2 separate regions of the Homo sapiens genome follow, and region 2 is linked to region 1. The links come from fine-mapping of genetic effects on plasma protein levels. A gene starts in region 1. The other region holds a variant in brackets. All regions are shown on one strand. Distances are between the middles of the regions.

Region 1 (16,249 bases):
GGCCAGTGAGTTACACTGAAGCAGTGACCCTGGGTGGGTCATCCAATGGGAGCCAGGCCGGGTGAAGGAGAAAAGACAGGAGTGTCATCCCAGCTGCTCTAACTCACTGTATGTCCCTGAGGGAGCTCCTCCCCATATCTGGGCCTCCTCAGTTTATAAGAGTGAAAACATTGGCCAGGCACGGTGGTTCATGCCTGTAATCCCTGCACTTTGGGAGGCTGAGGTGGGTGGATCACCTGAGGTCAGGAGTTCAAGACCAGCCATGGTGAAACCCCATCTCTACTAAAAATGCAAAAATTAGCCAGGCATGGTGGTGCACACCTATAGTCCCAGCTATTCGGGAGGCTGAGACAGGAGAATCACTTGAACCTGGGAGGCGGAGCCTGCAGTGAGCCGAGATTGCGCCATTGCACTCCAGCCTGGGTGACAGAGCAAGACTCCGTCTCAAAAAAAAAAAAAAAAAAAAAAAAAAAAAAAAGGCCAGGCACGGTGGCTCACCTGTAATCCCAGAACTGTGGGAGGCCGAAGCGGGCGGATCACGAAGTCAGGAGTTCGACACCAGCCTGACCAACATGCTGAAACCCCGTCTCTACTAAAAATACCAAAAAATTAGCCAGACATGGTGGCGTGTGCCTGTAATCCCAGCTGCTCAGGAGGCTGAGGCAGGAGAATCGCTTGAGCCCGGGAGGCGGAGGTTGCAATGAGCAGAGATCGAGCCACTGCACTCCAGCCTGGGCAACAGAGGGAGACTCCGTCTCAAAAAAAAAAAAAAAAAAACAGTGAAAAAAATCAAAGGTTGAACAAGTTGACCTTTCATAGGCTCTCGGCCCCACCACTGTATAGTTCTAGGCGATGGGCACTATTTGCAGAGGGAAGCTGAGCGGGTTTGAGAAAGTGCTGGTTATACAGGGAGGTGACCAACCAGGGCCTCTTTCTCCAGGGCCAGTAGCCAATCTGCGACACAATCTCAACAACGTGATCGCATCGCTGGGCTGCACCGTGGAGCTGCAGATCAACAACACCCGCGCAGCTTGGCGCATCTCCACAGCCCCCTTACGGGCCATGTTCAAGGACCTGCTGGTCAGGAATCTGCACAGGCAGAGCCTGGGGGGTCCCTCTCCCTGGGGCCAAGTTAACTTGAGCTGGGAGTTGTCACCCTGGATTTACAGTTTCCCAATGGGGATACTACTGGCATTTTTTGCAGAACTATTCCCAAACATTGCAGAACGTGCCCTGGTCCTGGTGTTAAATGCCAGGAGAGCCCCTGAGTCATTAGGACATGCTCTATACACATTTCCTAATACCTGAGTGGTCAGTACTCTGGACAGCTGAACTAGAATATCTAGGAAATTTGGGGGCTTTGGCCTTGAGTAGCTCAGAAGTTTCGAAGACAAGAGTATTCAAGAATTGGGTATTGGAAGGCTGGAGACTGGGGGTTTGGGAGAATTGGAGAGCTGGAGAGTTGGGGACATGGGGGCTGAGGGGTTTGGAAGTTGGGGGCATTCAGATGGCATAATGATCTCAGAGACTAGTGGTGAAGGGTAAGGTCTAAGGACCTGGGGAACCACTGACCAGGAAGGGTCTGGGATGGGAGGACTGAGGAAGAGCTGAGAGTCTGGGAGGTACGCAGAGCCAGGACATGTGGCATCAGACAAGGCAGCTGGTGGGGGGGCTCCCAAGGGCAATGGACAGCCGGGAATTTGAGGTGAGAGGCTGTGTCTCAGGGCCTAGGCTCCCTGTCGGCCTGGGGTGAGAACCCAAAGCTTGGCTACTGGGGGAGGACAGGCCCTCAGGCAGCAGAAGTTCTAAAGCCCCAGCCCTCACCCTTTCCTCCCTCCACCTCCAATCCCAGAGTAGCAAAGAATTGCTGAGAGCAGAGACTCGGAACATCTCCGCCACTTTTGAGGACCTGGATGCCCAGGTGAATAGTGAGACGGGCTACACGCCTGAGGATACCATGGACTCAGGGGAGACAGCCCAGGGCAGGGAGGCCCGCCAAGCCCCAGCCTCCAGACTCCACCTGTCGACACAGAAGATGTATGAGCTGAAGACCAAGCTGCGTTGCTCCTGTGAGGGGTATCCCTGGGGAGTGGAGGGTGGGGTGGGATGTGGGGCCAGCATTGTGGATCAAGATGTGGGAACCTCAGACACCCTTGCTCCTTCCTACAGATGTGGTGAACCAGGCCATACTCAGCTGCCGTCGTTGGTTTGACCGCAAGCATGAACAGTGCATGAAGCACATCTGGGTCCCACTCCTCACCCACCTGCTCTGCCTGCCTATGAAGTTCAAGTTCTTCTGTGGCATTGCCAAGGGTCTGCACAGTTGCAAAGGGGTGGGGAGCATCGGGGTAGGGAGCTGAGTCCTTGGGACCCACTGGTAGGTGACAGGCAGGAAAGCAACAGATGAGGAGGGTTTTGGCCCTGAGGCCACAGCATCCTTAGAGCCCTCCACCTGCTGAATAGCTCTGTGACGCAGGGTGAGTTACAGCAAAGCTCTGAGCTGTGGCTTTTCATCTGAAAGATGCGCATGGGCAGAATAACAGTAGTTCTTGCATTAATTTTTTTTTTTGAGACGGGGTGCTTCACTCTTGTCACCCAGACTGGAGTGCAGTGGCGCAATCTCGGCTCACCGCAACCTCTGCCTCCCGGGTTCAAGCGATTCTCCTGCCTCAGCCTCCTGAGTAGCTGGGATTACAGGTGGCCGCCACCATGCCCAGCTAATTTTTGTATATTTAGTAGAGACGGGGTTTCACCACGTTGACCAAGCTGGTCTTGAACTCTTAACCTCAGGTGATCCACCCACCTCAGCCTCCCAAAGTGCTGGGATTACAGGTGTGAGCCATCGCACCCAGCCACATTAAGGGCTTTTAAGGATTTATGGGGCTAACGTATGTGAAGGCAGTGGCAGAGCTGGCACACAGAGGAGCTGCTCTGTAAACGCTGGCTCTCCTTACTGATGTTTGTTATGGTTGAGGATAGATTGACAAAAATGAGGGAACTCAGGTCTGGTTCCTGGAGGGCAGGATCCAAAGAGAGCAGAGAGGGGAAGACTCAGCATTGGTGTGGTAGCAAGCCATGGGCAGAGAGACAAAAAAGCAGGATGAGGAGGACTACAGGAGGACAGGCAGGCCAGGCCTGCACCTGGAGGACAGGCCCGGGGAGGCCCCTGACCCCGTCCACTGTTCACCAGTGATGGAGGTTTGGTGCCGCAATCGCATCCCAGTGGAAGGCAACTTTGGGCAGACCTACGACTCCCTCAACCAGTCTATTCGTGGCCTGGATGGGGAATTTTCAGCCAATATTGACTTCAAGGTAGAAGGCAAGGGCGAGGGTTGGTGGGGGGTAGATAGGGAGTGGGAGGAGGGCATGAGGGAATAGAGCTAGAGGAAGGACAAGTGAGAGGGCACAGGAAAGAGGTGACCAGGGGTGAGGGAGGGGGACAAGGAGGGGGAATGTCGCTGGTGTTGAGGGGGCCCTCTGTTTCCCATCTCCACCCCCGAACACCTGAGATGGGCAGGGGAGGGGAAAGGTGGTGAGGAGGGGACAGTGCCAAGCCTGTGGTTTGTGCAGACTTGGCCTGGGGTGGGAGCTATCAGCCAGATATGAGATGATGTCAGCTGATGTAGGTGCAGGGGAGCAAGACTGTGTCCAGGAGGGTGGTGAGCAGAAGGAAGTGACAACTCCTAGAGGTCCTGGGAGGGCCCCAGGGACACAAGTGGGGTACTGGGGAACAGATGTCATGAAGAGGTGGGACCCAGGTCTGACGAGGTGGCCGCAGGCTGAGTTTGCTCATGTGCCCTCCACCAGGAAGAGAAGCAGGCTGGGGTGCTGGGGCTCAACACAAGCTGGGAGCGCGTGAGCACCGAGGTGCGGGACTACGTGTACCGCCAGGAGGCCCGGCTGGAGTGGGCCCTGGGGCTGCTGCACGTGCTGCTCTCCTGCACTTTCCTGCTGGTCCTGCATGCGTGAGCCATAGTCCCCACCCCAGCAGCCCCTCCTCTGCCCCGGACTGGAGCCCTGCCCTGAGGGAGGCTGTAAGGATGGAACCCTAGCACCTATCCTCACCTCTGAATCTGAATATTATTTACCTTTGTCTTTGTTTACACAAAGTTAAAGGAAAAGTGGACATTTTGTCAGAAGAACATTACCCATGTTCCCACTGCCTTAAAAGGCCAACCGTCTTCATTCATCCACCTCCTTCCAGCCTTTATCCCAATACTGATTTTTTTTTTTTACGTTTAGCTTTGACTTTTGATTTTTTCTTGCCCTTCATATTCCCCTTGGCTCTGACTTTGTGCCATTTTTATCTTTCCATTTTGCTTTCATTTTCTCCTGCCTGCTGCGTTGGCAGCGACTTTCCCTCCATTTAGAACAAAGTCCTCAACCCCACCCAGCCCAGTGTCCAGCTGGGCTGCCCCGGGCCTTGCTCTGCTCTAGCTCCCCTGCTGGTCTCTGGACCCTCTATTTCCCATCTCCACTCCCAAACACCTGAGATGGGCAGGGCTTGGGTGAGGGCTGCCACAGGGCTGTTGCTCTGTCTGCCCCTATGTGGGGGGCCTAGAGTGACTGCAAGTGAGTGGGTATGTGTGTATCTAGGGCCCCATGGGAAGACAAAGATGAAGGAGCTCTATTCCTGCCCCCAATAAGCTCATGATCGCCAGGCATGGCGGCTCACTCCTGTAATCCCAACATTTTGGGAAGCCGAGGTGGGAGGATGGCTTGAGTTGAGGTGTTTGAGACCAGCCTGGGTAACACAGTGAGACCTCGTCTCTACAAAAAATGAACAAAATCAGCCAGGTGTGGGGCACATGCCTGTAGTCCCAGCTACTTGGGAGGCTGAGGCAGGAGAATCACTGGGAGGTCGAAGCTGCAGTGAGCTGTGATTGTGCCACTGCATTCTGCATTCCAGCCTGGTGTCAGAGTGAGAGCTTGTCTCAAAAAAAAAAAAAAAAAAAAAAAGCTAATGATCTAGTTGGGATCATGAGACACCCACAAGACAGAGATGGTTCAAGGGCCATTCTATGGATTGGCTTTTGAGACGTGTATGGGAGCTGGGAAGGTGCCCCTTGGAAGGGCAATAACTGGGCTCCAAATGGCCGCAGATGCGGAACGGTGGTCAAGGAAAGAAGGGTGTCCCTTGCGTAAGGCTCCTGGTATCCATGGGATGCAGAGGGCAGAGGCTGGCCTGGAGAACTGAAGTGGGCATGACCAGAACAGTCTGGAAAGCCCTGCAGGAAGACCTGGAACTGGCGGTGGTGGCAAGATGGCCTCAGGAAGTCTGGAGGGAGGGCGGGAGGCCAGGCTGGGTTGGAGGTTAGGGAGCCTGGCCCGGGTAGAGCATGGCAGGAAGATGGCTTGAGATGGTGGGGGAAGGGGAAAGGTGCAGCGAGGCTCAGAGCCAGCTTGTGGAGGGAAGGAAGGAGGCACAGAGTCAAAAGCTACTTCCAGGCTTTCAAGCTGGGTGAGGTCATGCACTGAAAGGACAGCTGGCGGGAGGGCAGGCCCTGGCTCAGGAAGCCCAGGCACCACCTCTGTGAGCCTCTCCACAAGAGGGCACTCACAGTATGTCTTTGCACTTACAGTAGTTTTAAAGGCAAAGATGTGGATTTTTACAGGGCCCCAGAAGCAATAGCATTGAAACTAATGTTTCACACTTTACAGAGTTTGTTTAATGTACTTTTACAGTTTTAAACACATTTGCAGTAATTAACATTTTTTCCTTAGCAAACTGAAGCATTATGTAGGGCTTTGGGAAATACATGGGGGATAGCTATATATGCAGGCATGCACCCATGCACACGTGCACCGTGCTCAAGGGTAGCCAGGGAGAGCCAGGGTGTATTGGGGGAGGATGGAGATGGTGGTCTGGGATGAGTTTTGCCCCAGCACACTTCCAGGAGATATGCTGCAGGCAAAGCCAAGAGGCAGGAATTTGTGAGTCACAGTGGATTAGGTGATTCCTGAAACCTCAAGGAGTTTCCCCCTCTCTGTAACTCTGCTCGATATTCATCCTGTAAGATGCATGCCTGTCCCTACCTCAGATGCACACATGCAACTCCCTCCCAGACAGGCTGACCATGCCCTCCTCTGAGCCCCCACCTCATCCCCTACTCACTTCTGCTATGTCTCACCCATCATGTAGGGGGATGTCTTCCTCTACACAATTGGAAGGCAGGGACAGAGTCTTCTCCCTGTTATCACCATCCCCTAGCAGTGCCCAGGACATAGATGGTGCTCAATGAATGCTGGCTGGTTGGTTGAATGACTGTGCCTCAAGGAAGCCCATGTTTGGGGATAGATGAGGAGAACCTGGAAGAGATGGAGACATCCCTGCCCATCCACCCACAGGTCTTTCTCCTACATGGACAGCTATAACCATGACATTCGTTTTGACAACATCTACATCAGTACCTACTTCTGCCAGATCGATGACCGCAGGAAGAAGCTGGTGAGTGGGCACGGCACTGCCCGGGGATGCCTTGCTGCTGTGTGCCCTGTGTGGGTTCATGCTCCAGGAAGGCAGAGAGGAAAGGGCAGAGGGCCCTTGGGCTTCCTAACTGTGTGGACATTTGTTTTCCAGGGCAAACGGACTCTGCTGCCACTCCGCAAAGCTGAGGAGAAAACCGTCATCTTCCCTTGCAAGCCCACCATCCAGGCCTCAGAAATGAGCAATGTGGTGAGGACAGCATGGGGAGCGGACTCCTGGGTGCAAAGACAGGCCTGAAGGTGAGGGTGGAGGGTAAAAGGCACCAGAGAGTGCTCCGTGCCCAGGCAGATGGCACTGCCCAGCTCTGCCCCTCCTGCTCCTTGGCCAGGTGAGGGAGCTCCTGGAGACACTGCCCATTCTGCTGCTGCTGGTGGTGCTGTGTGGCTTGGACTGGGCTCTCTACTCCATCTTCGACACCATCCGCCACCACTCCTTCCTGCAGTACTCCTTCCGCAGTAAGCCCATCCCCCAGACACATTCCAGGCCCAAGAGACACCCTCTGGAGAACTCCAATGCCTGCACAGCCACCCCACCCTAGTTCTTCCAACTGTGCCTCGTCCTTCTGCCTCTTTTTTTTTTTTTTTTTTGAGACAAAGAGTCTCGCTCTGTCACCCAGGCTGGAGGAGTGCATTGGCACAATCTCAGCTCACTGCAACCTCCACCTCCCAGGTTCAAGCAGTTCTCCTGCCTCAGCCTCTTGAGTAGCTGAGATTACAGGTGTGAGCCACCACGGCCAGCTAATTTTTCTATTTTTAGTAGAGACAGAGTTTCACCATGTTGGTCAGGCTGGTCTCGAACTCCTGACCTCAAGTGATCCACCTGCCTCGGCCACCCAAAGTGCTGGGATTACAGGTGTGTGCCACTGTGCCAGCCATCCTTCTGCCTGTTCTTTTCCCCTTTCTGTGATTCAGCCCCTCCCTGTCCTCCTCAAGGTCAAATGACAGCCCTGCAACCTGACAGCTCTCACAGCAGGGGAGGGGGGCTCTGTACCCCTTTACACTTACAACTGGGAGCAGGGAGGGGTTAGGATTCAGGAAGGGACAGAAAGACTCAGGCAGCTGAGAAGCATTTCTGTGTCTTGACCCCTCCCTGACATCCACCCCCTTAACACATTCCTGATTTCTCCACCTGCCCTGACTTCCCTACCTGTCCTCCTGGCCGCAGGCAGTCATAAACTGGAGGTGAAGGTCGGGGGAGACTCCATGCTAGCCCGGCTTCTTCGAAAAACCATTGGGGCCCTGAACACCTCCTCAGAGACAGTGATGGAATCAAACAACATGCGTGAGTGATGCTGAAAGTTTGGATCAGAGGAATCGAGGGCGGTGGGGCAAGGGTCAAAAGACTCCAAGGTAAAGAGTTAGGGGCCTGGGCCTTGGGTGTGGAGAGATGGGGGTTGGAGCGCTTGAGCTGGGGAAATCGGAGCAGGGAACACATCTGGGCAGGCTTGAAAAAGGGGAGCATGACCAGCTTCAGTCAGAGGAGTCTGGAGGCCAGGGTCTTGTGGCTAGGGGGCCCCAGCCCTCCAGAGCAGCACTGTCCAACAGGACATTCAGTCAAGATAGAAATCTGCAAGATCTGTGCCACATTGGGCCCAGCGGCTACAGTACTGACAGGGCAGTTCTGCAGTGAGGGGCAGGCAGGAGGAGAGCAGGGGAATCAGAGGACTGCACCTCCCACTGGGATGGGAAGTCCAACCCAGGGCTGCCCTGCCCCTTGGCTGGTCCTGACCAGACCCCTGGCCTGCCCCTCCCCTAGCCTGCCTGCCCCAGCCTGTGGGCCTGGATGCCAGGGCCTACTGGAGAGCTGCAGTACCGATTGGCCTGTTAGTGTGTCTCTGCCTGTTACAGGCTTTTGGCTACCGACTCCGGAGGGTCATCGCAGCCTTCTACTTCCCCAAGGTTTGCCCCTCCCCAGACCTCTCCACCCCTACACACCTGCACACACACACACACACCACCCAGCTCCCTACCAACTCCATATTTGGGGGATGCCTTTCTCTATCATTGACCCCCTTCCTGCCCCCAGCGAGAGAAGAAGCGGATCCTGTTCCTCTACAATGACCTATTGAAGAAAAGAGCAGCCTTCACCAAACTCAGGAGGGCCGCTATCCTGAGGCGGGAGCGACAGCAGAAGGCTCCGGTAAGTCCAGGCGTAAGTGCTGCTGCCAGCTCCTGGCTGGGTCTAAGTACAGCAGGCAAGGGGCAGCTCCCTTCAGTCCACCCAGCACCCACCAATGGTCGCAGGCCTACTCGAGCCTGGTAAGTTCTTTTTATTTTTTGAGATGGAATCTCACTGTGTCGCCCAGGCTGGAGTGCAGTGGCACGATCTCGGCTCACTGCAACCTCTGCCTCCCAGGTTCAAGCGATTATCCTATCTCAGCCCCCCACTCCACAAGTAGCCAGGATTACAGGCACACGCCATCACGCCCAGCTATTTTTTTGTATTTTTAGTAGAGACAGGGTTTCACCATGTTGGCCAGGCTGGTCTCAAACTCCTGACCTCAGGTGATCTGCCCACCTCAGCCTTCCAAAGTCCTAGGATTACAGGCGTGAGCCACCAAGCCCAGCCAAGCCCGGTGTAATCTGATGCAACACATGCTGAGGGCCCCAGCCATCCAGCTCCTAAGGTCAGGGCTGTGCCCGTTTCTGAATCCCAGGATTCAGCCCAGCCTAAGACACTCAGTGGACCATTAGGAAGCAGGCAGAAAAGGAGAATGAGATTTAATACAGTCTGCTCATAGAAAAGCAAGAGGGCCGCACAGAAACAGGAGGCCCAAGGCAAAACCAAAGTTTCTACCAGAGGGCTGCAGACCAGAAGCTCAGTGCAGTTCAAGGGACAGGAGGAGGCAGGTGGGCTGGGAGTCAGGAAGGCCTCATGCAGGGGCACATGGTAAGGCACATGGAATCTGAGGAAGCAGACTCCAGTCCATACTCCCTCATTAAGTTGTGTCACCTTGGCCAAGGTCTTCACTGAGCCTCAGTTTCTCCCTCTGAAGAATGGCAAGACTGGAGAGATCTGTAAGGCCTGCTCACTGGAGATCAGCCTAGAGTGGTGGTCAGGTGTGGGACTCCGGTGCCAGAGGGCCTAAGTGTGTATCCCGGCTCCTTCCCTCATTACTATGACAACGGTGTGACCTTGAGCACATGACTTAACTGCTGTGCCTGGGCTTTTGCCTTCCATAAAATGGGGTTAACTACTCCATCTGGTTGTTTTAAGGATTAAATGAGTTGTACTTACATGGTGCTGGCATGCAGCAAGTTCCATATGCATGCATGTTATCATTGGGTGACCCTGGGCAGTGATCACATCTCCAAGCATCAGTTTTCTCACCTGAAAAAAAGGAGATGATAATAACACTATCTGCCTTACATGACAATTGAATTGAATTTTTTTTTTTTTTTGAGACTAAGTCTCACTCTGTCGCCCAGGCTGGAGTGCAGTGGCGTGATCTTGGCTCACTGCAACCTCCACCTCCCCAGTTCAAGCGATTCTCGTGCCTCAGCTTCCCGAGTAGCTGGGATTACAGGCACACACTACCACGCCCGGCTAATTTAGAATTGAAATAATTTATGTACAGTATCTTAGTACAGGACCTGACATTATAAACAATGAGTGGCAGCCATTCTTATTTAATCAGTCCTAACAAAGTTCATAAAAGTGAGACTGTGTTTGCTTAGCTTTTTCCCTAGGGCCTGGATACCCCCAGCCCCCATGACACACAATAGGGGCCAAATGAATGTGTTGTGAAAAAATGAAAAACAAAAAACAAAAAAGAACATGCTGGGATTCCTTGACAGGGTCGTGAAGCAAACTGAATGTGAATGCACAGATGGAAATGTGCCAGACAGTCATTCCAAGCAGAATGTGCAAAGACTCAGTCCACAGGGAATGCGAAGTGCCAGGGCTAGTCTCAGGAGAAACTGGCTCAGAAGAGACAGCTCTCAGGGAGGGCTAAAGTAGGAAAGAGGCTAGAAAGGGACCAGGTGAGGGAAGGCTCTGAAGGCCAAGCCCAAGAGTTCTGCCTGTCTGGCAGGCAGCAGGGCCTCTGGAGTTTCTTGGGCAAAGAGTGGCTGCTTCCTGGGTAAGGTGGCCTGTGGAAAATCCCTGACAACTGTGTAGAGACATGTCGTGAGGGATGGCAGGGAGCATAGTGAACTAGGTTTGTGGTTTGGAATCAGGGCCCCTGGGGTCCAGCCAAGTTGGATTGTTTACTATCTGTGTGACTTTGAGAGTCACTTCACCTTTCTCAACTGTAAAGTGGGGATAGCAACAGTGATAGTCGATCTGGCCTGCTCACTTCTCAGCCTCACTGTGAGAACCAAATAAGATGATTTACAGGAAAGTGCAAATGAGAGTTGTGGCTGATATCCGCTTGGAGAGAGCCTGGAGGGTGCATCCTCCCATTCTCCATCACAGAGTTGGGGAGGGAGGCACCCTCGCCCTCCAGGGGTTTCCTTTGTCCAACCCAGCCTCCTCCAACACGCGGGAATTGTCAGGCCTGGCGACTTCAGACAGGAAACGCTGTCCAGTTCCCCTTCTTTCCCGCCTCGCTCCCGGGCTGGCGCTAACGCCCACCTCCCAACAGCGCCACCCGCTGGCGGATATCCTGCACCGCGGCTGCCCGCTCCTGCGCCGCTGGCTGTGCCGGCGCTGCGTGGTGTGCCAGGCACCCGAGACGCCCGAGTCCTACGTGTGCCGGACGCTGGACTGCGAGGCCGTGTACTGCTGGTCGTGCTGGGACGACATGCGGCAGCGGTGCCCGGTCTGCACGCCCCGCGAAGAGCTCTCTTCCTCCGCCTTTAGTGACAGCAACGACGACACTGCCTACGCGGGGTGAAGAGGCGTCCTGCTCGCTCTTCCGCACCGTCCTTCCCGGTTAATAAAATGCCCTGTACGCTTCACGTGGGTCGGGGACTGGGGTGAGCCGCGCACTGCCTCGCCTGCAGTCGGGAAAGCCTGCCCGCCCGACCTCTCCGAGCCAGGCCGCGCACAGGAGGCAGGGAGGCCGCGAAGCTACTAGGGAGGGGTCCGGACCTGGCGCCGGGTGAAGGCGCGCCGCCCAAGCCGGTCGGACCGGGCACCGGCTCCCACTCCGCACAGTTGCGGGGAAGCGGTAGCGCTGAGCAGCGCGGGCGTAGTGGGCGGTGTCCCCGCTCCCGAGGCACCCGGCGCGCAGCGGGGCGGGCTTTGCCGGGGGCGGAGCTTGGCTTGGGGCCGGGTGGGAGGGGGCGGGCCGGGGCGGGGCCTGGTGGCCGCGCGGCGCTGCTGGGTTCTCCGAGGCGACCTGGCCGCCGGCCGCTCCTCCGCGCGCTGTTCCGCACTTGCTGCCCTCGCCCGGCCCGGAGCGCCGCTGCCATGCGGCTGGCGCTGCTCTGGGCCCTGGGGCTCCTGGGCGCGGGCAGCCCTCTGCCTTCCTGGCCGCTCCCAAATATAGGTGAGTCCTCCGCCTGGAGTGGGTCGGGGGGCGGACTGGGAGGGAGGTGCAGGAAAGTCGGAAGGCATTAGGGTAATGGGGCCGGACGGAGACCCTGGGAGAGCCCAGCCAGAGCGCGGCCCGCCCTGGTCCGCTGTCCTGGGCCTAGGGCCCGGTGACTTGGCGATGGGGTGAAAAGAGAAGGAGGGGGGATGCCGGCGCCCCCTGCCTCCTGCCTGGTCATCCTCTGCGCGGTCCCTGCGGACACTTTCAGGCTCAGGTACCAGGTACCGAGGGGCCTGTCCAGCGCCACTTCAAGATCGTGATGAGAGGGTCGCTGCTCCCCAGGACTGGCATCTTCGCTGCTCTGGGGCCTAGCTAACCGTTCGACCCGGTGCCAGGGCGCTGAGCGGGCATGGCTTGTAGGGTTTAGTGAAGAGGATTCTCTCTAGCCTCTATTCCAGGCCTGGGGCCGCCAGGCACTCCTCACCCTGGTGCTGTTGCCACCAGTGCCTGGCCGAGCGGGAGGGGCCCGAGATGAGCCAGGAGAAGGGAGAATTGGCCAGGAAAGAGGCTGGGACACCAACTCCTCCTTGGAACTTTCACTTCCCGCTGCTGTCTTGGGCCGGGACCGAGAGGGCAGGCGCGGGTGGAGTGTCCGGAGGAGAGAGGGCCATTGTGTGTTGGGGGGGTGGGGGGTGCTCGAGGAGGAAGCAGAGGCTGTAGGCAGCGGGTGTGCCTGACTGGGCATGAGGGTGTTTAGGGAGGTGGGGGTGTTTGCACTGCTCACCCAGAAATGGGCGTTCCTGGCATCTCCGATGTGAGCGAAGGGGAGGGTGAGCGGGCACCCGGCCACAAGGCTTAGCTCAGTCTCGAGAGGGGGCGTTCCTGAAGTGGGGGGAGAGTGATTGGGAGGGAGTGGGAACCGGGGAGGGTCCTGTGAGAACCTGGGATTGGCCGGAAGGGGACAAGGAGGGCCACAGGCTGCGCAAGCCGAAAGTCTTTCTTGGGGACTTGTGAATGGGTTGGTGGGTGGAAAGCCATAAATTAGAGAGACACCCTCTCCTTCCAGTATTCTTCTTTAAGTCTCAGCATGCAATGTGGAAGCCCCTCAGGTACCTAAGGGTCTTGATGGGCTGGGAGCTGGTGGATCTGAGGGCACCTGTCACCCCCAGCCCTGCTGTCGATTCCCTCAGTACTGTCTTGGGGTGTCCTGGGACCTGCAGGTGGCACTGAGGAGCAGCAGGCAGAGTCAGAGAAGGCCCCGAGGGAGCCCTTGGAGCCCCAGGTCCTTCAGGACGATCTCCCAATTAGCCTCAAAAAGGTGCTTCAGGTGAGCTCTCACTCCCCTCTAATAAATAAACGAATCCACACACGCCCCGGTATAGCCAGGTGTCTCAAAGCCAAAGCTTGGCTGAGGAGCTGGTGGGTAGAGCTCACTGTAGTGGGTCTATCCCAGGCCCAGCTGCCTCTCCCACCACACCCCAGCACCTGGCTTCACTTATCTCCCTCTCCCTCTGCACACACGTGTATCTGTCTGCCTCAGCCCCACCCAACCCATCCATCTCCACTGGGGAAATTGTGAAGCCAAACTTGCTTTCTTCATCTCATGTTGTCGGTTTTCTCAGTGGGGGGATTTGGAAAGAGTCAGGACCTTACCAAACCCCCCCCCCCCCACCCCATTCTAAAGCTGAGTCAGAGGAAGGGCTGGGGCTTGTGCTGGGTCCTACACGGTGCTTCCTCTCTGGGCAGGAAGCCGAGAAGGGGTGGCTCAGATACCTTCCTTGACCTCCGCACACAACCCCCCAGAACAATGCTCCAGGCCAGGCAGGGTTTCCTGGCCCCTCCCCTGGGATCCCCCCACCAGTGATCTAATTGCTGGTGCTCTTCTGTGGGCCTGAGGTTTTCTGGTTAGAGAGGCTGGGAGTTGTGGACAGGTCTAGGGAGGTGACCTGCCCTCTGGTGCCCACAGACCAGTCTGCCTGAGCCCCTGAGGATCAAGTTGGAGCTGGACGGTGACAGTCATATCCTGGAGCTGCTACAGAATAGGTAATAGTGATGGTGGCAATAACAGTGACCACATGGCCAACAACTTGTATAGCATTTATTATGTGCCAGGTACTAAGTGCTTGTGCTCATTTAATCCTCATAACAGCCCTATAAGGGATATACTATCATGTATTATTGTCCTCACTTTATACATGAGGAAGTCAAGGCACAGAGAGATTAAATAACTTGCCCCAGGTCACACAGCTAGTATGTGGTGAAAACCAGATTGGAATTCAAATAAACTAACAGAGTCAGTGGCCCAACCAGTATACTTTGCTGCCCCGGGGTCAGGAGTGGAAAAGTTGGCTGCGGGGGTTGCCTGGTCCCCAGCCCCACAACCACCTTCAAGCCTCTGCTTGTCAATGCACGACCTGGGAAGTGGCTTTAGCACTGCCTTCTTTTTCTTCACTCCACAGGGAGTTGGTCCCAGGCCGCCCAACCCTGGTGTGGTACCAGCCCGATGGCACTCGGGTGGTCAGTGAGGGACACACTTTGGTGAGTCAGGCCCTCTTGTGCCATTTTTGGCTTAGGGGAAAGAGGGAGGGGGTGGCTGGAAGGTGAGAGGACACTGCATATTTTTACCGTCAAGCTAGGCTCCTCAGTTCCAGTCCTGGTGTGCTCTCTGAGACAGCACTAATGTTGTTCCCATGCTGCAGGAGAACTGCTGCTACCAGGGAAGAGTGCGGGGATATGCAGGCTCCTGGGTGTCCATCTGCACCTGCTCTGGGCTCAGGTATACTGGGCGGATTTAATGACAGTAGAGAAAGTAAGGAGACCCAGGCATGGAGCTGAAATGTTCTCTGACTTTCTTTTTTCTTAGAGGCTTGGTGGTCCTGACCCCAGAGAGAAGCTATACCCTGGAGCAGGGGCCTGGGGACCTTCAGGGTCCTCCCATTATTTCGCGAATCCAAGATCTCCACCTGCCAGGCCACACCTGTGCCCTGAGCTGGCGGGAATCTGTACACACTCAGAAGCCACCAGAGCACCCCCTGGGACAGCGCCACATTCGCCGGGTGAGGATGAATGGCAGGGGGGTGGGCTTTGGTTGTCTTGAGGGCTGATCCCCAGACACTTAGAGCTATGTGTGCACAGTAACAACAGCTCCTGCGAATGGAGCACTTTCCACATGCTGGGCACTTTGTGAACATTAGCTCGTGTACTCCTCCCATACCTAGGAGGTAGGTGCTATCAATAGCTCTATTTTAAAATGACGAAACCTTACAAAAAGTATCTGGGCATGGTGGCGTGCACCCGTAGTTCCAGCCACTCAGGAGGCCGAAGTGGAAGAATCGCTTGAGCCCAGGAGGCAGAGGTTTCAGTGGGCCGAGATCGAGCCACTACACACCAGCCTGGGTGAAAGAGTGAGACCTCGTCTCAAAAAATAAAATAAAAATAAAATAAAATAAAATCTAGCTGAGACAGATTAGGTGGTTTGCCCGAGGCCCTACAACTAATAAATGGCCTATCCATTTATTAGTTGTATTTGGCTCTTCATCTGTCTTATGATCCCATTTGCAGAGAGCTCTCACTTGGTTATAGATAATACATAGTTACCAATGATGAAGCAATATAAACCCAATTTCCTAATTTGTAAAATGAAGATAATAAAACTACTTGCTGCATAGAGTTGCTGGGAAGATTAAATAAGTCCATATAGATGTAAAGTGCTTAAAACTATGCCAGACCTATGGTAAGTGACAAGAGTTGTTATTGGGATTTTTAAAAATTATTATTATTATTATTATTATTTGAGACAGAGTCTCGCTCTGTCTCCCAGGCTGGAGTGCAGTGGCATGATCTCGGCTCACTGCAAGCTCCGCCTCCCAGGTTCACGCCATTCTCTTGCCTCAGCCTCCCGAGTAGCTGGGACTACAGGCGCCCGCCACTACACCCGGCTAATGTTTTGTATTTTTTAGTACAGACAGGGTTTCACCGTGTTATCCAGGATGGTCTCGATCTCCTGACCTCATGATCCACCCGCCTTGTCCTCCCAAAGTGCTGAGATTACAGGCGTGAGCCACCGCACCCAGCTAAATTACTGTTTTTTAAAAATTTGAAAAAAACCACTGAGTTTGGAGCCAGAAAAGCAGGGGTCTACTCCAACCTTCATTATCTACTTCCTGGTCCTCCTTGGCAAGTTCCTGGGCCCTCTGGCCTTCAGTGGCTCATCTGTAAAATGGGCTCTTCACCCTCCTATTTGACCCACAGAGTAGGAGTGGCTGCCTCTTGGTCAGCCCGGCACAGCTGCTGGCTGCGAGCGGCAGGTTTGCCTGATAATTCTTCTTGTCCATAGTAGAGGC
Region 2 (5,647 bases), 860 kb after region 1:
ACTGAGATACATAAACTGAGTCTTCAACTGAAGTTTTTTTTTCCACATAGGTGATGATGTAGTTTATTCACAGCTGAAGATTTCACCTACAATTCTAAGCTAAAAAAGGATTCTGAGAAGATGTCTTTCTTAAAAAAATTAGGCTATCTGGGCACAGTGGTGACTGCCTATAATCCCAGCTACTTGGGAGACTGAGACAGGAGTATTGTTTGAGCCCAGGAGTTCAAGACCAGCCTGGGCAACACAGCAACAGCTCATCTTTTTTTTTTTTTCTTGAGACAGGGTCTCACTGTCACCCAGGCTGGAGTGCAGTGGTGCAATTTCGGTTCACTGTAGCCTTGACTTCCCAGGCTCCAGTGATTCTCCCACCTTGGCCTCCCAAGTAGCTGGAACTACAGGCGTGCTACCACCATGTCTGGCTAATTTTTTTGTATTTTTGGTAGACATAGGATTTTGCAATGTTGTCCAGGCTAGTCTCGAACTCCTGGGTTGAAACAATCCTCCTGCCTTGGCCTCCCAAAGTGCTGGTATTACAGGTGTGGGCCACTGCACTCAGCCGAGACCCCATCTCTTAGGGGAAAAAAAAAATTAGGCCTGAAAAGTAACTTTACCATTTATTAAATTGTTATTATCTACCAGACATTATACTAAGTAACTTATATATATTAATTCTTCAATAATCACAATAATCCAATGAAGTAGGCATTATTACCTCCATTTTACAGCTAAAGAAAATTCAACTTGAAAATATTAATGTCTTCTCTAAATTAGTTAATTAGTGACAGAATGAGGATTAAAATCCAAGATTGCTGAACTGAAAAGCATTATTAACCATGTGTTATACTTCCTCCTCAATACTACAAAAAAGGAAAAAAATATATAATTCACTATTTTTTTTTTTTTTGAGACAGGCTCTCACTCTATCACCCAGACTGGAGTGCAGTGGCATGATCTCGGCTCACCACAACTTCTGCCTCCCAGGCTCAAGGGATTCTCCTGCCTCAGCCTCCTGAGTAGCTGGGATTACAGGCACATGCCACTATTGCCCGGCTAATTTTTGTATTTTTAGTATAGACAGGGTTTCACCATGTTGGCCAGGCTGGTCTTGAACGCCTGACCTCAAATGATCCACCTGCCTCAGCCTCCCAAAGTGTTGGGATTACAGGCGTGAGCCACTGCACCCGGTCTAACTGACTATTTTCTAAATAATCCACAGTTTCGTAATTTCTCTTTTCTGAAAGCAAATTTCTTTATGCATATTACTATAGTAACCTTGGAAAATATAGAAAACTAAAAAGAAAAAAAAAGCCACGCAATATTTCATTCACTTAACAACTGCTGCTTACATCTCAATGTATTTCCTTTTAACATTTTTTCTTGAATTCCTGCTTCTGTCTCTTCCTCAAAGATGAAGAGCTCATTAAATCAATGCTTCTCAATTATTCATTAGGATTAGTGAGTTGTGAAATCTACTTAATGGGCCGGGACCAGCATTAAAATAAACAAGCAGAAACCTAAATAAAAATAGAAAATACCAGGCCAGGCACAGTGGTTCATGCCTGTAATCCCAGCACTTTGGGAGGCTGAGGCGGGTGGATCACCTGAGGTCAGGAGTTCAAGACCAGCCTGGCTAATGTGGTGAAACCCCATCTCTACTAAAAATACAAAAATTATCTGGATGTGGTCACAGGCGCCTGTAATCCCAGCTACTTGGGAGGCTGAGGCAGGAGAATCGCTTGAACTGGGAGGTGGAGGTTGCAGTGAGCCAAGATTGTGCCACTGGACTCTAGCCTGGGCAACAGGAGTGAAATTCTCCGTCTCAAAAAAAAAAAAAAAAAAAAAAGAAAAAAAGAAAAAAAAAGAAAGAAAATACCAGAGTGGGTGAGGTACAGTGGCTCTCACGCCTGTAATCTCAGTGCTTTGGGAGGTCCAGGTGGGAGGATCACTTGCGCTCAGGAGTTTGAGACCAGCCTGGGCAATAGAGCGAGACCTCATCTCTACTAAAAATCCAAAAATATTAGCTGGGCTTAGTGGCCTACGCCTGCAGTCCCAGGTATTTGGTAGGGTGAGGCGGGAGGATCACCTGAACCCAGGAGGTCCAGGCTGCAGTGAGCCAAGATCACAACACTGCACTCCAGCATGGGCAACAGAGTGAGACCCTGTCTCAAAAAAAAAGAAAAGAAAAGAAAATATCAGAGTGCACCAGATGTAGTGAGGTAAAGTTTCATAATATTTTAGCTACACATACACATGCGCTTGTGTATATAATTTATATATACATATGCACACATTCATATGCTTTTTTTTTTTTTTTTTGAGGCAAAGTCTCACTCTGTCGCTCAGGGCGGAGTGCAGTGGTGCAATCTCGGCTCACTGCAACCTCTGCCTTCTGGGTTCAAGGAATTCTCCCACCTCAGCTTCCTGAGTAGCTGGGATTACAGGCATGCAGCAGTAACACGCCCAGCTAATTTTTGTATTTTCAGTAGAGATGGGGTTTTACCATGTTGGCCAGGCTGGTCTTGAACTCCTGACCTCAGGTGCCTTGGCCTCCTAAAGTGCTTCGATTACAGGATTGCAGGCTCAGGATTACAGGCGTAAGCCTCCGCACCCGGCCTTGTATGCTTTTATATCTCTACCAGTTACAATGTAAAGTTTTTCTGAGTTTACAGCCAGAGCTTGAAATCAAATGCACTAAATTAGAAACTCAAGAACAGAAACCTCATCTTTTTGATCACCACTGTACCCTGAGGGTAAGCAGTGCTTGGCACATAATAGAAACTCAGAAGACATAAGTATTTGCTGTTGAATCAGATAATATTGCCAGGAGAGTAGTTAACTGGAGGAAAATTGATTAAAACAGATAACTTGGCCGGATGCGGTGGCTCACGCCTGTAATCCCAGCACTTTGGGAGGCCGAGGCGGACGGATCACAAGGT[C/G]AGGAGATCGAGACCATCCTGGCTAACACGGTGAAACCCCGTCTCTACTAAAAATACAAAAAATTAGCCAGGCGAGGTGGCGGGTGCCTGTAGTCCCAGCTACGCTGGAGCCTGAGGCAGGAGAATGGCATGAACCCCGGGGGGGCGGAGCCTGCAGTGAGCCGAGATCATGCCACTGCACTCTAGCCTGGGCGACAGTGAGACTCCATCTAAAAAAAAAAAACAAAAAAAAAAATACAGATAACTCTTACAGGAGACGAGTATTTGAGTTTTACTTTAAAGAAAGGGAAAGACGCGGCCGGGCACGGTGGCTCACGCCTGTAATCCCAGCACTTTGGGAGGCCAAGGCAGACAGATCACGAGGTCAGGAGATCGAGACCATCCTGGCTAACACAGTGAAACCCTGTCTCTACTAAAGGTACAAAAAATTAGCCGGGCGTGGTGATGGGCCCCTGTAGTCCCAGCTACTCAGGAGGCTGAGGCAGGAGAATGGCGTGAACCCGGGAGGCGGAGCTTGCAGTGAGCCAAGACGGCGCCACTGCACTCCAGCCTGGATGACAGAGTCAGACTCTGTCTCAAAAAAAAAGAAAGGAAAAGATGCTTTTGGAGTTCTCAAGTACATATGCGTAAGCCCTAAATTCATTTTATTCCTAGAACTCCCGCCATAATTTGAATCTCTGAACAATTTTTTTTTTTTTTTTTGAGACAAAAGCTTGCTCTTATCCCCCAGGCTGGAGTGTGATGGCACTATCTCGGCTCACTGCAACCTCCGCCTCCCAGGTTCAAGCAATTCTCCTGCCTCAGCCCCCGCAGTAGCTGGGATTACAGGCACCCAGCACCACGCCCGGCTAGTTTTGGTATTTTTAGTAGAGATGGGGTTTCACCATGTTGGCCAGGCTGGTCTCGAACTCCTGACCTCAGGTGCTCCACCCGCCTCGACCTCTCAAAGTGCTGGGATTACAGGCATGAGCCACCGCGCCTGGCCTGAATCTCTGAACAGTGTTCTAAATTTGATATAGTACATGAAAAAGTCAAGACTTTTTCTATTTTTCCCATCCCTGGAATCATGTGCTCTATGAAATGACCATATCAAAGCTGGGCCACCACAAAACATTATTGGCTTTGCGGGAAACAGAGCAGCAGAGGCCTGACCCAATGGAAATCCTTCCTAGAGAACTAGGATCATGGCAAAGAGTGTCACATACTGAAAATAATAAGGCCCGGCGCAGTGGTCACGCCTGTAATCCCAGCACTTTGGGAGTCCGAGGTGGGCAGATCACGAGGTCAGGAGATTGAGACCATCCTGGCTAACACGGTGAAATCCCATCTCTACTAAAAATACAAAAAAAAATTAGCCGGGCTTGGTGGCGGGCGCCTGTAGTCCCAGATACTCGGGAGGCTGAGGCAGGAGAATGGCATGAACCTGGGAGGTGGAGCTTGTAGTGAGCCGAGATTGTGCCACCGCACTCCAGCCCGGGCAACAGGGTGAGACACCGTCTCCAAAAAAAAAAACAAAAAAAGAAAATAACAGTACAGCTGACTTTCTGTGCCCTCTCCCATTCCCACATCCATTTTTCTTTCATATTAGGATATAAACCCTTAGAATCAAACCTGCTTCCTTATGGTTTAGGAATGACAGTAATGTTCTTAGTCTTTGTAGAGATTAGCAATTAAAAAATAAAAAAGTCAAAGCAAACAAAATGACTTTTTTACTCTATTAGCGTTCTGCAACAAGAGTTAAGGACCATAAAAGACATCGGAGGGCTAGGCACAGTGGCTCACGCCTGTAATCCCAGTACTTTTCGAGGCTGAGGTGGATGGATTACTTGAGGTCAGGAGTTTGAGACCAGCCTGGCCAACATAGTGAAATCCCATCTCTACTAAAAATACAAAAATTAGCCGGGTGTGGTGGCAGATGCCTGTAATCCCAGCTACTCAGGAGGCTGAGGCAGGAGAATTGCTTGAACCCGGGAGGCGGAGGTTACAGTGACCGGAGATCGCACCATTGCCCTCCAGCCTGGGAGACAGTGCGAGACTCCATCTCAAAAAAAAAAAAAAAACAACAGACAGACATGGGAGAAGACATTACTACGTAATGAACTTAAGGTATAAGGAAGTAAACCAAGAGCTCCAAGTGCAAGATGTCCAGGCTTGGCATGTCTGGGTTGTAAGAGTTCAGCAGCCTGGCTCTACTTGTTTCTCTGCTTCCTTTTGTGGAAGTTCAAACCAGCTGACTCACAGTTACAGAGCGAGTCTCAAGTCATACCCTTAGAGAAGTGACAGCAAGAAAAGGCTTCGTTAAGTGGCCTGTATACAACCATAAAAAAATACAACAAAGAGAGTTGTCCCATTAATGTTCAGTAAGAGACAAAGACTAAAGATGGCTTATGACATAAAGTCTGAAAAAAAAAGAAATATTCAGTTGCTTACCAACTGCTGATACCCTTGTTTCTAAATAAATCTGAATTAGACTCCAAAAAAGCCTCAAAATATAAATAGTTAGAAACTACTGATATTCATTAAGATATTTTTATGGGGTATATTTGGAAACATAAGTGATGATCTGGCTTACCAATGGTGGGATCATGATCTTCTGGGAATCGGTGGCTGATGAACTGCATGGTCATGGCTTCAAAAGAAGAAATAAAAGTCAAATCCTCACAAAGGTGACCCACAGAGAGAATTTTAAGTATTAACATTGCAAGATAGCA

Direction of the effects. Alleles are on the strand shown, and positions count from the first base shown. The strength of an association depends on the size of the effect and on how common the allele is.
In carriers of allele G in region 2, the plasma level of the protein whose gene starts at base 11,772 in region 1 tends to be higher than with C alone (strong association).

Evidence for each region. PIP is the chance, under the fine-mapping model, that this variant and not a neighbour inherited with it causes the effect. The UK Biobank Pharma Proteomics Project read protein levels with antibody pairs (Olink). The fine-mapping took linkage between variants from a reference panel, not from the people measured, so its PIPs are less certain.
Region 2: its variant is fine-mapped to the plasma level of the ADAM15 protein (UK Biobank, PIP above 0.99).

The regions. Positions count from the first base shown.
Region 1 is chr1:155,039,545-155,055,793 of GRCh38, forward strand. It overlaps ADAM15 (ADAM metallopeptidase domain 15), which reads left to right and starts at 11,772. Exons shown (of 23, transcript NM_207197.3): 1 at 11,772-11,921; 2 at 13,127-13,233; 3 at 13,873-13,949; 4 at 14,366-14,444; 5 at 14,606-14,682; 6 at 14,770-14,962; 7 at 16,246-16,249. The coding sequence starts at 11,843. It overlaps DCST1 (DC-STAMP domain containing 1), which reads left to right. Exons shown (of 17, transcript NM_152494.4): 6 at 941-1,080; 7 at 1,853-2,069; 8 at 2,170-2,313; 9 at 3,191-3,312; 10 at 3,808-3,965; 11 at 6,349-6,448; 12 at 6,581-6,676; 13 at 6,816-6,942; 14 at 7,652-7,768; 15 at 8,243-8,385; 16 at 8,513-8,626; 17 at 11,073-11,386. The coding sequence ends at 11,324. It overlaps DCST1-AS1 (DCST1 antisense RNA 1), which reads right to left. Exons shown (of 4, transcript NR_040773.1): 2 at 9,725-9,817; 3 at 6,416-6,611; 4 at 5,647-6,309. It overlaps ADAM15-EFNA4 (ADAM15-EFNA4 readthrough), which reads left to right and starts at 11,772. Exons shown (of 26, transcript NR_176418.1): 1 at 11,772-11,921; 2 at 13,127-13,233; 3 at 13,873-13,949; 4 at 14,366-14,444; 5 at 14,606-14,682; 6 at 14,770-14,962; 7 at 16,246-16,249. RefSeq lists an enhancer at 10,947-11,006 and a silencer at 11,477-11,936.
Region 2 is chr1:155,904,942-155,910,588 of GRCh38, forward strand. It overlaps RIT1 (Ras like without CAAX 1), which reads right to left. Exons shown (of 6, transcript NM_006912.6): 3 at 5,509-5,565. Among named protein-coding and RNA genes, the nearest start is that of RIT1, 3.6 kb to the right of the region's middle. The variant C/G (reference allele first, on the strand shown) is at 2,937.